Regions from separate parts of the Homo sapiens genome. Here region 2 is linked to region 1. A link means that fine-mapping ties the variant in region 1 to the expression of a gene that starts in the linked region. Tissue or cell type: whole blood. Region 1 holds a variant in brackets; the other region holds the start of a gene. All regions are shown on one strand. Distances are from middle to middle.

Evidence for each region. PIP is the estimated chance that this variant, and not a neighbour inherited with it, causes the effect.
Region 2: HEXA starts here. The variant in region 1 is fine-mapped to the expression of HEXA in whole blood (TOPMed, PIP above 0.99).

Annotation. Positions count from the first base shown.
Region 1 is chr15:72,342,204-72,350,308 of GRCh38, forward strand. It overlaps HEXA (hexosaminidase subunit alpha), which reads right to left. Exons shown (of 14, transcript NM_000520.6): 8 at 6,876-7,056; 9 at 5,845-5,931; 10 at 5,483-5,555; 11 at 4,324-4,507; 12 at 4,032-4,122; 13 at 3,243-3,347; 14 at 1-1,937. The coding sequence ends at 1,874. Among named protein-coding and RNA genes, the nearest start is that of CELF6, 26 kb to the left of the region's middle. RefSeq lists an enhancer at 155-654. The variant T/C (reference allele first, on the strand shown) is at 4,459.
Region 2 is chr15:72,371,070-72,379,174 of GRCh38, forward strand. HEXA (hexosaminidase subunit alpha) reads right to left here and starts at 4,945. Exons shown (of 14, transcript NM_000520.6): 1 at 4,651-4,945. The coding sequence starts at 4,903. It overlaps HEXA-AS1 (HEXA antisense RNA 1), which reads left to right and starts at 5,044. Exons shown (of 1, transcript NR_027262.1): 1 at 5,044-7,719. It also overlaps the pseudogene RPL12P35. RefSeq lists enhancers at 4,181-4,736, 4,737-5,293, 5,185-5,324, 5,655-5,704.

The DNA of each region.
Region 1 (8,105 bases):
GGCTAGGCTGGGCTGTGTGAAAATTCCAAGAATTCTGTTGGTAGAAAATGCCCACCCTGTCCTTACAGGAACAGCACAAGGCTAGGCTTGTCTACCTCCCACCAGGACCTCGAAGGAACATGACCCAGGGGCTGAAGGATGGTGTTGAAGGACCGAGTTTTACTCAGATCCTTCTCAGCCCTGCCTTCCTGAAGTTTCTGTATCCACTACACTGGAAGCTTTCTGAAAAAAATGCCTGGAACCTGTCCATTGTTACCCCAGCCCAGGGCCCAGCCAAAGAACTTAACAAATAACCGCCAAGGAAATCCTCACCTAAAATGGCTGCGATGCATTACTGCCCCCGCCTCTGGCTTACAGTATCACTTCTGCATCTGAAACCAGGAGGGGGCAGTCTGGGTCCACGACGAGACATTTCCTTCTAGAGAAAATCACACCTGCAAAGACCCTCTCCAGAGCCACCGCCCACCTCCGCGCAGCCATCCATTCCCTGCGAAGATGCTTTGGGCTGAAAATGGTTGGGAGGAGGGGGATGGAAGTCGCCTACGTTATTTTGGAATTGACCAGGGCCTCTGAGTCCTTCAAATTCAACAATTTACCACAGGCCCGCGTGCGGTGGCTCACGCCTCTAATCCCAGCACTTTGGGAGGCCAAGACAAGTGAACATCTGAGGTCATGAGTTCAAGACCAGCCTGGCCAATATAGTGAAACCCCATCTCTACTAAAAATAGATGAATTCGGCCGGGCGCGGTGGCTCACGCCTGTAATCCCAGCACTTTGGGAGGCCAAGGCGGGCGGATCACGAGGTCAGGAGATCGAGACCATCCTGGCTAACACGGAGAAACCCCATCTCTACTAAAAATACAAAAAATTAGCCGGGCGTGGTGGCGGGCGCCTGTAGTCCCAGCTACTGGGGAGGCTGAGGCAGGAGAATGGCGTGAACCCAGGAGGTGGAGCTTGCAGTGAGTCGAGATCGTGCCACTGCACTCCAGCCTGTGTGACAGTGAGACTCCGTCTCAGAAAAAAAAAATATATATATATGAATTAGATGGACATGGTGGCACGTGCCTATTAATTCCAGTTACTCAGGAGGCTGATGCACGAGAATCGCTTGAACCCAGGAGGCAGAGGCTGCAGTGAGCCAAGATTGTGCCACTGCACTGTCAGCCTGGGCGACAGAGTTTTTGAGACAGTCTCAAAAACAAAAACAACAAAAAAACCCACTACCACAGTGCCTAGAGAACAATATGTGTTTAATAATATTTAAATAATGGTTGTATAAAATTGAAGCAGCAAGAAACCCAAAGGAGAATAGCTCTAGGGGAGGGAGGTGGATGAGTATGCATGGGGGAGAGGCTCTTCTGTGACCAGGTTGGGTCTGGAGCCCTCCCCACTGTCCAGAACACCTCCAAGCCCCTACATCTTTTTCCATATACCAACGCCTTGGAGATATAATGCAGAAGTGAAGTGAGCAGGCTGAGGATTAGGGCAGGTGTCTGGAATATGGTCAGGAGTGGGAGGGGAGTGACATAGCTCACAGGCAAGGCAGAACAGCACAAAGGCTATAGGTTTCATTCCCAGCCCTCAACTTAAAAGACCTCAGGGGCAGACACTGACTCCAGCCTGGCTGTGCCCTTACCCTAACGCCATTCACACTTTTTTTTTTAAACACAGGTAATCCATGTTTATTATAGAAAAATGCCACATTACTCTTTATTGAATGCGAGCGCCAGCACCGGCCCCTTTCTCTCCAAGCACAGGGGCACGCAGGCAAGGGGCACGAAGGCAAGGGGCTCCGTCCCCTGGCCAGGATGCAGTGGAAGCCTGGCTCCACTACCATTCACCTACAGCCAGCACCCTCCTCGGTGCCTGGGGCTCAGGTCTGTTCAAACTCCTGCTCACAGAAGCCTACATTGAGGGGTTGGGCCTGGACACCTCGCCTGCAAGAGGACATGAAGAAATGGCAAGATAAGCCCCTCAGAAGGGGCCCCAGCAACACTTTTCACACCAGTCAACAGTCTCTCCTTCCCCATTTCGGTGACTCTCAAACTGTCACTGTACACCAAATGCACCTGGGAATCTCAATTCCAGAGATTCTCACCTGGGGTGGGGCAAAGTATTGGCAAGAATCTGCAAGCTGAACAGGTGCCTCAGGTGATTCTGATACAGGTCTTGGAGATCCAGAAACGTTGGCGACATCTATTTATATCCTGCCCATCTCTGTACCCTAACCCCAAATAACTCAATCCCTTTAGAATATAGATGGATGTCTGAAAGGCAGCCAATGCTCTTGGTCTACTTAGCCCTCTGTTCCTGACTCTAAAATGCTGTAAATATGGTGGCACTGGGGGACTTAGGTGCTGTCCTGTCCATGAACATGGATGCGAAATCCTGTCCTTGGGTCTCAGTCTATAACCTGACCAATCTCCTTAGGGGACCTCTAGGCATGCTTCCCTTATCATCCAAGTAAGCAACATGCTTAGAGAACCAGCTGGAAGTTACCCAGTGAATGACATAATTGAGGCTTAGACACCATCATGCTTGACTCTCAGCCCAGGACTCTGCTCTGCACTAGGCTATGTCCCCCAAGTACTCAAGACCTAGCCAACGAAGGAATCAGGGAAATGACTATCTTACACAGGCACATCCCTGACAGAGGCAAAGGTGTCATGACATCCTGTAAGTCAGCCTGGTTCAAATCCTGCTTCTTAGTGACTTTGGGCAAGGTCCTGAACTCTGTGCTTCAGTGTCTATCTCTAAAATGCACCTGTCTCATGGGGCTGTGGTGAAGACTAAATGAGACAATATTTGTAACAAACTTAGCACAGTGTTTGCCACAAAATACAGTTGTCCCTCAGTATCCACAGGGGATTTGTTTCAGGACCCCCGTGGATACCAAAATCCAAGGATGCTCAAGTCCCTTATATAAAAATGACATAGTATTTGCATATAACCAATGTACAACTTCCCATATACTTGAAATGATCTTAGATTACTTATACCTAATACAATATAAATGCTATGTAAATAGTTGTTATACAGTATTTTTTATTTGTACCATTTTTTGTTGTATTTTTTTTTTCCTGAATACTTTTTATCGCAGTTGGTTGAATCCGTGGATGAGGGCTGACTATAAGCCTCTGTAAGTGTTAGCTATTGTTAATTATTGTCTTCCTCTCTCTAAGGGGTTCCCCAGCCCTGGATCTGGCCTGCTCCGCCTTGCGAAGGCCCCACAGCTTGCTTACCTCAGCAATTCACAGCGGAAGTGTGACAAACGTTCATAGGCAAATGTCAGGTCAGATGTCAACTTGTTGCTCCACAGCCTTTCGGCAACAGCCCCTGCTCTGGGCCTGGAGGAAAAGGGGCATGTGCCAGATTGGGCCCTGTATTCCCTGCAAAGGTGCTGGACATCCACAGGCTGCTACCTCTTGTCTAGGCACCCTGGACTCACTCAGGCCAAAGGAAGTGATCAATACCTTGTTATGAGCCACAGCCAGGTTGGATGGCTCCCAGAGAGTTCTACGGCTCAGCTCCACCTTCATTAAAATGTGGGTAGCAATCCCACTCTCTTCCTCTCTCAAAGATATGGGAATAAGAATAAACCTTAAAGCCATCATTAACCACAATGACAGTGGCAGCAGCAGAGGTCCTTAAAATGTAAACTTTGCACACCCAACCATACTTGGTAAGGCTGCAGTGAAAACAGCAGAGGGAAGCCTTATTACAGGAATCATGGATGCTTGTGCTGGGTCTTGAGCAACTCACCTATGTTCTCCAGGCCTCATTATCTCTCTGGGAAGTAAGGTTAACAATCCCTATCCCACATACCAAAGGGCAGCTGGAGGGATATAGACGGAAGTCATGTGGAGAGTGAATATTGCACACAAATCTTCAGAAGGCTCGTTGCACGGCCTGCTCTCTCTCAGGCCTGAAAGAAGGGTACTAGTCCAGAGGTGGCTAGATGGGATTGGGTCTCTAAGGGAGAACTCCTGCTCTCAGGCCCAACCCTCCACCTCCCCCCCGAAAACCCTTACCAGAGCCTGGGGACCAGGTTTGTGTTGTCCACATATTCTCCCCACATACAAGCCTCTCCACCAATCACCAGAGCCTTCTGCTCAGGGGTACCTGAGGGAAAACAAGCAACAACAGTCTGGTGATGGTGGGGTAACTCCAGGGTCCCTCTCAACCACCTTCCCAATGTGGCCCTCACCCCAGCTAAGTTGTTTCATTTACTAACTGGAAATGTCTGGCCCAGACCTTCCTGCCTCCCATCCTGTGCCCCAACCCAGCCTCCTTTGGTTAGCAAGGAGAGCTCTCTGCTTTCACCTTCAAATGCCAGGGGTTCCACTATGTAGAAATCCTTCCAGTCAGGGCCATAGGATATACGGTTCAGGTACCAGGGGGCAGAGAGAAGGGCCCGGAAGCCGGCCTTGGTGACCAGTTCCAGCTCCTTCATATAGT[T/C]CACTGGAATATCCTCTCGCCACACCTGTATGATTGTGTCTGGCTGAATCTGTTATAAAAGGTCAAATGGCAGTAAGGACACAAAGCTGAGGAGATTCCTGGGCCTTATTCATACACAGGCAACATGGGACAACAGGTATGTGCTCCCTCTGTTCCCCAGCAGCAAAGTATGTCTCTGTGACTCCTGACCATTGAGCTCACACCTCAGGACAGAGGCCAAGGAATCCAGGGCCCTAAGAGGCCTCCCTGCAGCTCTCCTCCCCGTCCCTCTGCAGCCTCCCTGTCCACACAGAGCTAGTAATACCAGCTGTGAGCTGAGGGAGGCAAGCAGTGGGACCCAGGAGCTGCCATGTCCAAAAGTCTCCAGATGTTTCTGGGGACGGGACAAGGTTCCTGAAGAGTCCTTGCATGTGACAGGAGACTGGGATCTTACTGATCAACAATAAAGGAGAAGGTAACCTTGGTCCCACAGACCCAGAAGACCCTCATCTATGATTTAGGAAGAAAAATCCAGCCTATCCAAGTAACCTAACAGCAGAAATAGTTCTTAATTAAGTTTGTAGTGAGGGAAGATAGAAACTCTGACACATAAACCCAGGGCTCATACCACAGCGGCCTTTGGTTTTTTTGAGGCAGGGTCTCACTCTGTTGCCCAGGGTTGAGTGCAGAGGCACATCTTGGCTCACAGCAACCTCTGCCTCCTGGGCTCAAGCAGTACCCCAACCTCAGCCTCCTGATTTTTGTATTTTTTGTAGAGATGAGGGTTTTGCTATGTTGGCCAGGCTGGTCTTGAACTCCTAGGCTCAAGCAATCCCCCTGCCTTGGCCTACCAAAGTGCTTGGATTACAGGCGTGAGCCACTGCACCCAGCACTCTGTGGCCTTTCTAGAGAGAAAAGGAGAGTGCTCCGACCATTAAAGCCCAATCCAAACCAGGAGGATCAGTCTCTGTAGAGGCAGGGAGGAGCTGGGGAGACCAGAGGGAGGCACTGCTGGTGGCTTCTTCTCTTCTCTGCCCCGGCTCACCTTTACTTTATTATCAAACACCTCCTGCCACACCACATAGCCCTTGCCATAAGAAGAGACGATGTCCAGCAGCCTGGAGAGGAGAGGAGTGTCTAGTAAGTGTCTGCTTAGCTCAGATGGGTTCTAGACTGTTTGTGCCAGTGCTCTAGGGGTTGAGCCTGGCCAGGGGCCTATTCCTCATTAAGCAGTGTCTTTCCCCTGGGCTGAAAACCAACCACTCCAAATCTGAAAGGATGGGACAAAGGACAAGGGAACCCTGCAGGGACCAGACAGTGGCCAAGCAGGGCCTGACTCGGTATGGAAAGGGAGGACCCCACAGGAGGACCCCCAAGGGACCCCACCCACCCTCCTTCCTTCCTCACGTCTGGATGTAGAAGGACTCCAGCTGCTTGAAGTCCTCACCGAAGCCTTTCTTCCTCATAAAGTCCTGGATCTCTGGGTTGGACTTCCTGAATCCCAAGAGAAAATGAAGATTAATCTTTCAACATCCTGAAAGCCTAATGCCTGGGGATTAGTCACCTGGCCCCCTATAACTTCCTCTTTTCACCTGAAAAATCAAATAAGCAAGGATCTCAGAAGCCCTACATGTGGAAAGTGTGGCCAAGCAAAGTTATGTGAAGCAGGTGGGCTGTTGACACAGGCTGAGAAAGGCTGAGTCTGGACCTGAAGAGTTTTAAGTTCAAACTCCCAAAGAGAAAACATATTAATCCTCTCTGGACTGCAACATGAGAATCCAAGGTCTTAACTTGAAGCTCCAGCACACTGGATTTCGGCTTTCCTATCTGCTCTTCCAGTTGGATGACAAGCCTTGCTGTCTAACACCTGCTGCAGATCCCTTGCGTTATGACGTCCACATTTTGCTCACATTGTTCTCCTTCTGGAATATTTTCCCCTGCTCACATCTCCAAAAAGCCAAATTGATTTCCCCAGATTCAGCTCTAGCGCCCTCTTCTCAAAGAAGCCCCTCAGCCTCTTTTGAGCTTACTAGAACCAAGGGTTTGGACTTTACAACTGAATACTAATTAGACATTGTCACCTATTAGTCTTGAATTCTGTGTCTTGACTCTTCAACTAGACAATTTTAAGCCTTCATAAACAGGGATTATTTTTCTCTATCCCGAACTTTTCCAAGACAATTCTGTGCCCAGGGCTGTTTTTTCTATCAATACCTCAAGGATATGAGAGTAGGAAGGAAGAGGTTCACAGTGAAAGCCTTGCCAAAATCAGGTAGGATCTCTACGTAGATGGGCAGAGGAAGGCCTAAGACCTGAGCAATGTGAGCCCATACAGACCCCTGAGAGCAGCAGCTGAGCTAAGCAGCCCCTCGGGTGCTAACTTCTATTCTGAGTAAGCAACTGATCAGGCCACAGTGGGAAGATCAAAGGGCTCATACCAGCAGGTGAAATCAACCTCATCTCCTCCAAGATGAAGATAAAAATCTGGGAAGACAGAGCTGACTTCTAAGAAGAATGTGCTCATGAACTCATAGGTATTATTGAGACTGGGATTCACTGGTCCAAAGGTGCCAGAGGGCTCAGACCCAGAGTAGCAAGGAGTCAGTAATCCAGGGATACCTAAGCCAAGAGAAAACCCCATATGAGTGTCACAAATACATAAACCCCCACGCACAGTCCTACACGTAAGGACACGAGTCACACAAAGCAAGACAAGTGTATTCATAAACATCACACACATTTAGGTAGGCACACTTAGGCACTCACAGACACTGGTAGTCACCACCATTTAGTCACAGTAAAAAGATACAAATATATCCACAATCATAGGCAGAGGCTAAGTTCCAGCCAGACAACTGTCAGTGCGCACACTCTTGCCTGGACACACTGCTTCTAGCAGGTGCTACCCTTGCTCCCAAGGCTGCTCTCCTCACAGGCCTTGAGGCAGAGAGAGAGCCTAATCCAGCCAAACTGGCAAAATCTTTCTTCTCTATCTCCTCCTGTAGGTGGGGTCAACCATCACCCAGAATCTTTTTACATTTGCTAAGGGATATCTCCCTTGGCCCAGAGACTACTTCCTGACGCTGAGGTCACAAGATATCTTCAGGGTTTTTTTTTGGTTGTTGTTGTTTGTTTGTTTTTGAGACAGAGTCTTGCTCTGTCGCCCAGGCTGGAGTACAGTGGCATGATCTTGGCTCACTGCAACCTCTGCCTCCTGGGTTCAAGCGATTCTCCTGCCTCAGCCTCCCGAGTAGCTGGGATTACAGGCGCCTGCCACCACGCCTGGCTAATTTTTGTATTTTTAGTAGAGATGGAGTTTCACCATGTTGGCCAGGCTGGTCTTGAACTCCTGACCTCAGGTGATCCACCCGCCTTGGCCTCCAAAAGTGGTGGGATTACAGACATGAGCCACCACGCCCGGCCAATATCTTCAGTTTTCTATCAGGCCAGTAGCCCTTTTCAACTGTCATTTAACCTGTGTTGGGGGCTCACACTGGAGGGCTGAGGGTATACAGAAGAAAGGGAGCAGGGGTACTGACTGACTCTGACCTCTGCAGGCTGCCCTTGGGCTTCTTTCTTTCAGATTCTACCCTGGTGGTCAGATTCCTCAGCATCCACTCTAGGCACAACTACCTGCAACGGCATCTGAGAAAAATGTGCCCTTACAT
Region 2 (8,105 bases), 29 kb after region 1:
CTAGCCCAATTAAAGTGGAGAGAACTAATCGGCCTTATTCTTTCTCCCCAGCCCAGCTGCTTGACCTTATCTGTTTCCCTCCTAGATGCAATCCCAATGCATCTCTCACTGCATGCTGAGTTAAGAGCAGCACGAGTTGGGATCACACAATAAGCAGCATAGTGTGATTATCCTTTGCCTGGAATCACACACTTACACTCCAAATTGGTAACCTGAAAGGAAAGGTAATCCTCAATGAAAACCTGCAAATCATATCTTTTTGATGATCTTCTCAGACCTGTAATCCCAACACTTTGGGTGGCTGAAGCAGGCAGAGTGGTTGAGCCCAGGGGTTCGAGACCAGCTGGGGCAACATGGTGGTACTCCATCTCTACAAAAATTAGCTATGCACCTGTAGTCCCAGCTACTCAAGAGGCTGAGATGGGAGGACAGCTTGAGCCTCGGAGGTCGAGGCTGCAGTGGGCTGTGTTTGTGCCACTGCACTCCAGACTGGGTGACAAAATAAGACCCTGTCTCTAAAAGAAAAAAAAAAAAAAAAAAAAAAGAAAACAAAACCCAAACCCATAAAGCCTTCTTACAAATGTTTACACAAAGTAGCTCTTTAACGTTAATATATTTTACAAATAATTACTACATATCTACAACGTTCCAGATACAGAAGAAATGGCCAAAGAAGGTATTTTAGGAGATCCAGATTATAATGAACTATGCCATTTATTAATTTAGTCACTTCTTTAATATCTGAGGATGAGCAAATCAAATACTGATAATGGCTGCAGAAGGACACAGGCTCTTATATAATAATCTTACTTCCATTCCAGAATAAAAGGGCTGGAGAAGGGGGGCAGGATTATTCTGTTGAAGGACAATGGCATCCTCAGCAACTCACAGGGATGTGCAGGTGAACATCAGACCAGGATGGGAACCTTATAATATCTATGATATACTATGGCTTCTATCAACCAGTTTCAGGAAAAGCAAAGAAGAATGCAGTCATGGCCAGGTGCAGTGGCTCACACCTGTAATCTTGAGGTGGGCAGATCACATGAGGCCAGGAGTTCGAGACCAGTCTGGCCAACGTGGTGAAACCCCATCGCTACTAAACCCCGTCTCTACTAAAAAATAAAAAATTAGCCAGGCATGGTGGTGGGTGCCTGAATTCCCAGCTACTTGGGAGGCTGAGGCAGGATAATCACTTGAACCCAGGAGGTGGAGGTTGCAGTGAGTCAAAATCACACCACTGCATTCCAGCCTGGGCAACAGAGCAAGACTCCATCTCAAAAAAAAAAAAAAAATGCAGTCTAATGGCAGAATTAGACTTAGCCACTTTACTTGGAAAAATTTGGACTTTATCAGCTCCATCAAGCACCATGCTCCACACCATGCTTATTAAATGTCTGGAGCAACATTAGATGGGTGCCATTCCAAATTCCAAATAATCACATCTTTGCTTTGCAAACAGGATGTGGCTTAATAATCAAACAGGGAACTAGATTCATTCAAGTATCTAGTTCCTAAAATAAGTCTATTTAACAGGTTCAACAACATGCAACACACACCCTCCAATTGGTAGAAACACCTCTCAATGACAAAGAAAGGTGGCAAATACTAAACACCTTCACAGACCATTTAGCAACTGGTGGGACTAACCCTTGAAGGTGAATTCAAAATAGAACTGAACCTCAATACCAGACTTCTTTTTCAGAAAAGGGAGTATGAATTCTTAGTTTCAGGTTCAGACAAAAACCAGAAGTTGTATTGCATTAGGAAAAACACTGGGCTGGTCAGGTGGCTCATTCCACCCTGTAATCCCAGGACTTTGGTAGGCCAAAGCAGGGGGATCACTTGAGCTCAGGAATTGGAGACCAGCTTGGGCAACATGGCGAAACCCCATCTACAGAAAATACAAAAATTAGCCAGGTGTGGTGGCATGCTCCTGTGGTCCCAGCTACTCAGGAGGCTGAGGTGGGAGAATTGCTTGAGACCGGGAGGCAGAGGTTGCAGTGAGCCAAGATTGTGCCACTGAACTCCAGCCTAGGTGACTAAGCAAGATTCTGTCTCAAAAAAACAAAAACAAACAAACAAACAAAACCTACTGGCCCAGAGCCTACAAATAAGTTGTTTGGAGGAAGAGGATGGAAATCTGTTAGTTAAGATTTAACCTGCATATGTTGCCTTCTTTACTAAAATCAGACTCATAAAGAAATGTATTCTGGCTTCAGCCTTGTTGGTATTGCTCTACCTCTATTTGTTTCCCATGCTATTGCTTCATCCTTGTTTCTGCAGAACTAGGATTTTAGCTCAAAGTCACCTAAAAGCCTCCACAGGAAACTACATTCCAAAGGGAAGACTCCATGGGAAGAGCAATAGAGAAAGAAGTTACTTTTAAGTCTTTGGTAATGTTCACCCAACCCAGTTTTCATTTTCTCTCAATGGACAAGAACCCTCAACTAATAAAGCTAATGAACTTACAGGAAGGTAATATATGGAAATAAACATCTTATTGAATTTATCTGGCTCTAAATCTCTTTTGTTAGGGAATTTATAGTATTCCATTATCTTACAATCTCTCCATTTCTATCTACTTGATTAAACTATGGTGCTATAGCAATGGAGGTGAAGGCCTAATTTAGAAGTATAGGAATTAGGTATGGCGCGGTGGCTCATGCCTGTAATCTCAGCACTTTGGGAGGCTGAGGTGGGTGGATCACTTGAGGCCAGGAGTTTGAGACCAGCCTGGCCAACATGGTGAAACCCCATCTCTACTAAAAATACAAAAATTAGCTGGGCGTGGTGGCAAGCACGTGTAGTCCCACCTACTCGGGAGGCTGAGGCAGGAGAATCGCTTGAACCCAGGAGGCGGAGGCTGCAGTGAGCCAAGATCGTATCACTGCACTCAGCCTCAGTGTAGGCTGAGTGATAAAGCGAGACTCCGTCTCAAAAAAAAAAAAAAAAAGGAAAGGAATTATTCTCATGTATACAATAGTAGGAAACAACCTATAAAGCTTTTGAGAATCTTATAATTCACTGTGTACCTCCCTCTGTTTCATATTTTCGCAATTGAACTATAGAGCCTAGGCCTAGGTCTTAAGACTTTTCTTGTAACCTTCAGAGTGCCCAGCACTGGGATTGACATATACCAGTTAGACGGATTTTTTTTTCCATAAACCAGGCTCAAACTCTTCTAAACCAAAATCAACATATTCTGAGTGCCAATCTTGGGTAAGGCACTCTATTATTTGTCATGAAGGATTCAGAGGAAAATGTGATCTACCACACTCAACAGCAGGCCTCTTATCCTCTCCAGCTTAATGCATTTTACCAGTTAAGGACTACCCTGATGCTGAGATTGTGTTTCTTTCCCCAAATCAAATGTCACTCTCTAAGGGTCATCTGTATAATTAAATGCTTTTAATTCTATATATCAAATGATAACTTTTGTGAAAGTAATTTAAACACACTTGAAACATCATATAAAATATTACTACAAGACTTAACCGTAAATGTGGCTCCCACCCCCATAACATCTATACAATATAACCAAAGAGCTAGATTCCAGATTATCAAGAAACTTCTAAATTTTGAACCCATGCAGCAGAATTGTATTCCTTTACATTGTTGGCTCGACTTACAAATGTGCTGTGGAATAATTATCCTCAAATACAATTTTCAGTACTGATTACATAGCTGCCTAAAAGAAAACTGTTAGCCCCTTCCATTTTATGTGAAACCAATGTCTAAAGCGCTCTTGACTCTTCAACCCCACATTTTCCCCACCCTCATCCCTCCTCAATCCCCAGCCCCCACTCATCACATCCACTAGACCTGAACTTTGAACTCAATCATAATTCTTTGTGCCTCTGCTCAAGCCCTTCTTCCTGCCTGGAATACCCTCTTTTCAGTCCCGGCTAATTACATCTACCATCCCATTCCAAGTGGCCGCTGGAAACTCACTTCCTTATGTTCTATGATTTCTTTCACAATTTACACTTTTTTTGTTTTGTTTTGTTTTGTTTGGGGGGGGGGGTTGTTTTTCTGAGAGGGAGTCTTGCTCTGTTGCCCAGGCTGGAGTGCAGTGGCGCGATCTCAGCTCACCACAACCTCCACCTCATGGGTTCAACCGATTCTCCTGCCTCAGCATCCCGAGTAGCTGGGACTACAGGCGCGCGCCGCCACGCCTGGCTAATTTTTTGTGTTTTTGGTAGAGACGGGGTTTCACTATGTTGGCCGGGCTGGTCTCGAACTCCTGACCTCGTGATCCGCCCGCCAAACATTCTATGTGCCAGAAACTTGTATGTAACTTTGCATAGTTCTTGTATTATGTCTCCCCAATTTTGAGTGTTTTCTCTGGTCTCTACTCAGCCCTTGCTCACAGTCTCACTAGGACCCTGGCTAGCTTGAACACGGTCAGAAGGATCACCTTAGATTTCTGCTGGCACAGTATTTTCCATAAATTAATCTCCTGATTGAACCGTAGTCCTATAGTAGTTATCTTTGGATGAAAACCTAATGCAGCTCGAGGAGGAAGTGGAGTGCCTGTGATCAGAGGGCTGGACAAAAGCCCATAGGGCGTCTCTGGAGCCCTGGGGGAACTGTCCCCAGGCAGGCACTCTCAGGGCCCAGGAACAGGGCGGGACAAGTCCGACTCACCTGTGAGGTAAGGACGGGGCCAAGACCCGGAACCGAAAAGCAGGTCACGATAGCGCTGGAAGGCCTCGTCGAGGACTGAGCAGCCGGGCTGCGCGGCCGAGCTGACATCGTACTGGAATTGAAAGTTGTTCGGGTAAAGGACGTAGCGCTGGTCGGAGGTTTGGAAGTTCTGAGGCCAGGGCCAGAGGGCCGTCGCCCGTCCTGCGAACGCTGCCGCCAGCAGCAGCGAAAACCAAAGCCTGGAGCTTGTCATGGCCCGCTGGTCTCCCCTCTCGGAGGGGGCTGGCCACGTGAGACCCTGGTCAGGTGAGCGGCGCCCCCGTGACTTATCGGCGAATCACGTGACCAGAGGCGGCTCTGCGCCTGCGACCCCAGGAGGACCCACACCCTGCCCTTTCACTTCCGGCCTGGACCTGAGGCTCCTGCTACGTGCAGCGGATTGTGCCGGGCGTCGGCAACTGCTCGGCTCGCCAGACTGTTCACGGGCCCAGTAGAGCAGTAAATAACCGGCCACCCCTGCGGCCGTGCCGGCCGTGATGGAACTAGACAGCTCACCCGACTCGAGAAGAACGGGGTGGGGAGGCGAGGACGCAGGGCGACCTGGAGAAGAAAGTTTCCCAGATGGCTCTAGGGTGAATCTTGAATGTTGTGATGCAGCTCGCCAGGCCTACGGGGAGGTAAAGGACTTGCCAGGCTGAAGTAACTTCAGAAGCAGAAAAACGGAGGATTAAAACCACAAGTCGTTGTGATGTGAAATTTCGTGGGGCAAGAAAGGGCCGGAAGTAGGTAGTCTGCACGGCTCTGCTAGAGAGAGGATCACAAGATCACACAAATGTGATCTACTTATGACTGGAAAAAATGTGTACTTTCAGAGCCAGCTTGAGGCATTCCATTGCCTCCAATATGAGCTCTTCCCTTCAAGATTGACTATAAATCTCTTAGTTACAACTCACATCCCCTTTCCCCAGACAAAACCCCACATAGCCCGGTGTGTATTTACTGAAAGCAGTAAGATATTGCTGGGGCTTTGGGTGCAAGATGGAGAGTGCTCAGAGATAATGACAGGGGCCTGGTCCTGCAGGGCCTTACGTAGAAAGTCAAGGAATTTATTCTCTGAGCAATTGAAAATCATCCCGAAAGATCTGCATTTTAGAAATACCATGTTGAGTAGTTGCATAAGAAACCAGTTAGGAGGCCCCTTTTTATTGGAGGTAGAGAATAATGAGAGACTGAACTACAGAAGTGGGGAAGGAAGACAGCTGTAGATCCAAGAAATAGTATCCGGAAGAGAGGCTTGAGAAGTGATCAAGGAGAATTCCACAGTTATCAGAGACCCTGTCTTCCTTGTTCACCACTATATTACCAGAACATAATACAAATAATGCTATTGTTATTGGGTGGCATTATTTGGTTAGTAGGTACTTTTTAAAATTTTTAAATTTAATTTTAGTATTAAAATACATGTAAAGATCAGGAAAATGAACTTTTAAAAATAAAGGGCTTTCACTGGGCATGATAACACATCCCTGTAGTCCCAGCTACTCCCAGCTATTCAGGAGGCTGAGGCGGCAGGATCACTTGAACCAAGGAGTTCAAGTTTAGCCTGGGCAGTATAGTGAAACCCTTTCTCAAAAACAAATAAAGGGCTACTGAAATAATGATAATTTATATTCAGGTCGTAGGTACCTAATTACTAGTTACACATACATGGCTTTGATGGGAAATCAAAGAAACATTCTGACAATACAGAGATTCATCAAGCAATTTGTCTTTGAAAGTTGATTATTCAAAAACAGAGCTTGTAGCAAAAGAAGCAGAAATTAGATCCCACAGTCATCAAGTTTCAGATCCTAAGGCTTGCATTCTTACACCAATTTCTTCTTTGCTTAAATCTTAATTTTCATCAGCATTAATTAAGTGTCTGGGTACTCTGCCAGTCAGGAGAGATGTTACCAAAGGTACAGGATTTGAGAAGTATTGTCAGAAGAGCCAAGTTCATAATCAGGCCCACAGGATCAATAATTTGGGGGAGTGTTTAGAGCAGTTTCAAAGATGAGAGCAGTAGATCAAAGTAGAATTTCAGGACTGAGCACATGCCAAGGCACCCTTTTATGGATATTCAACCTGTACCAGAAGGGAGGAGTCATTTACTTAAAAGAGTTACACAAGATGAAAGAGCTAGATCCAAATAAAGACGCTATAAAAATTACTAATGGGGCTGAGCATGGTGGATTACAGGGATTCAGTTATTTAATTATTACTGAAAGAGCTCTTTTAGACTTAACCAGATTTTTAAACCAAATATTCTTATGCATACATAAAAGTAAGTTACACAAGATAAATTTGTTGATCTTCCAAAATATCCCCCCTTACTATACACTAGAGTGGGGTTTTGGCATAATGGCAGACAAATAGATGGAACGGAATAGAGGGTCCAGGAAAAGAGCCATTTGATTATTACTCCATTTCAATGAAGACACCAATTTAATTTAGTGGGGAAGGCAAGTTATTTTCAATAAAAGGTGATGAAGAAAATAGATATCCCTATGTGGGAAAAATGAACTATGATCCCCTACCTCACAGCATACACAAACTTAATTAAAAATGGATCACAGGCTGGGGATGGTGGCTCACACCTGCAATTCCAGCACTGTGGAAGGCCAAGATGGGAGGATCACTTGAGCCCAGGAGTTCAAGATCAGCATGGGTAATACGAGGAAATCCCATCTCTCTTTATTTTTTTCTTTTTTGAGATGGGGGTGGTTAATGGGTACAAAAAAAGTAGCCTGAATAAGACATACTATTCGAGAGCACAATAGGGTGACTATAGTCAATAATAATTGTATATTTTAAAAGAGTGTAACTGGATTGTTTATAACTCAAAGGATAAATGATTGAGGGTATGGATAACCCCATTCTCCATGATGTGCTTATTTCACATTGGATGCCTATATCAAAACATCTCAGGTACCCCATAAATATATACACCTACTATATACCAAAAAAACTTAAAATTAAAATTAGACTGGGTATGGTAGCTCATGCCTTAATCCCAGCACTTTGGGAGGCTGAGGCGGGTGAATCACTTCAGGTCAGGAGTTTGAGATCAGCCTGGCCAACACGGTGAAACCCCATCTCTACTAAAAATACAAAAATTAGTGTGGTGGCAGGCACCTGTAATCCCAGCTACTTGGGAGGCTGAGGCAGGAGGGTCACTTGAACCTGGGAGGCAGAGGTTGCAGTGAGCCAAGATCACGCTACTGCACTTCAGCCTGGGTGGAGGTTCTGTCTCAAAAAAAATTAAATTTAAATTTAAAAATGAATAAACAGTTTTTAACAATATGAATTATTTAAATTAGTATATATACAACATTGCCATCAATTTGGACAGTAGATGAATATAAAAAATAATAACATACTGTATATAATATTTGATGGTTTTTCTTTTTTTTCTA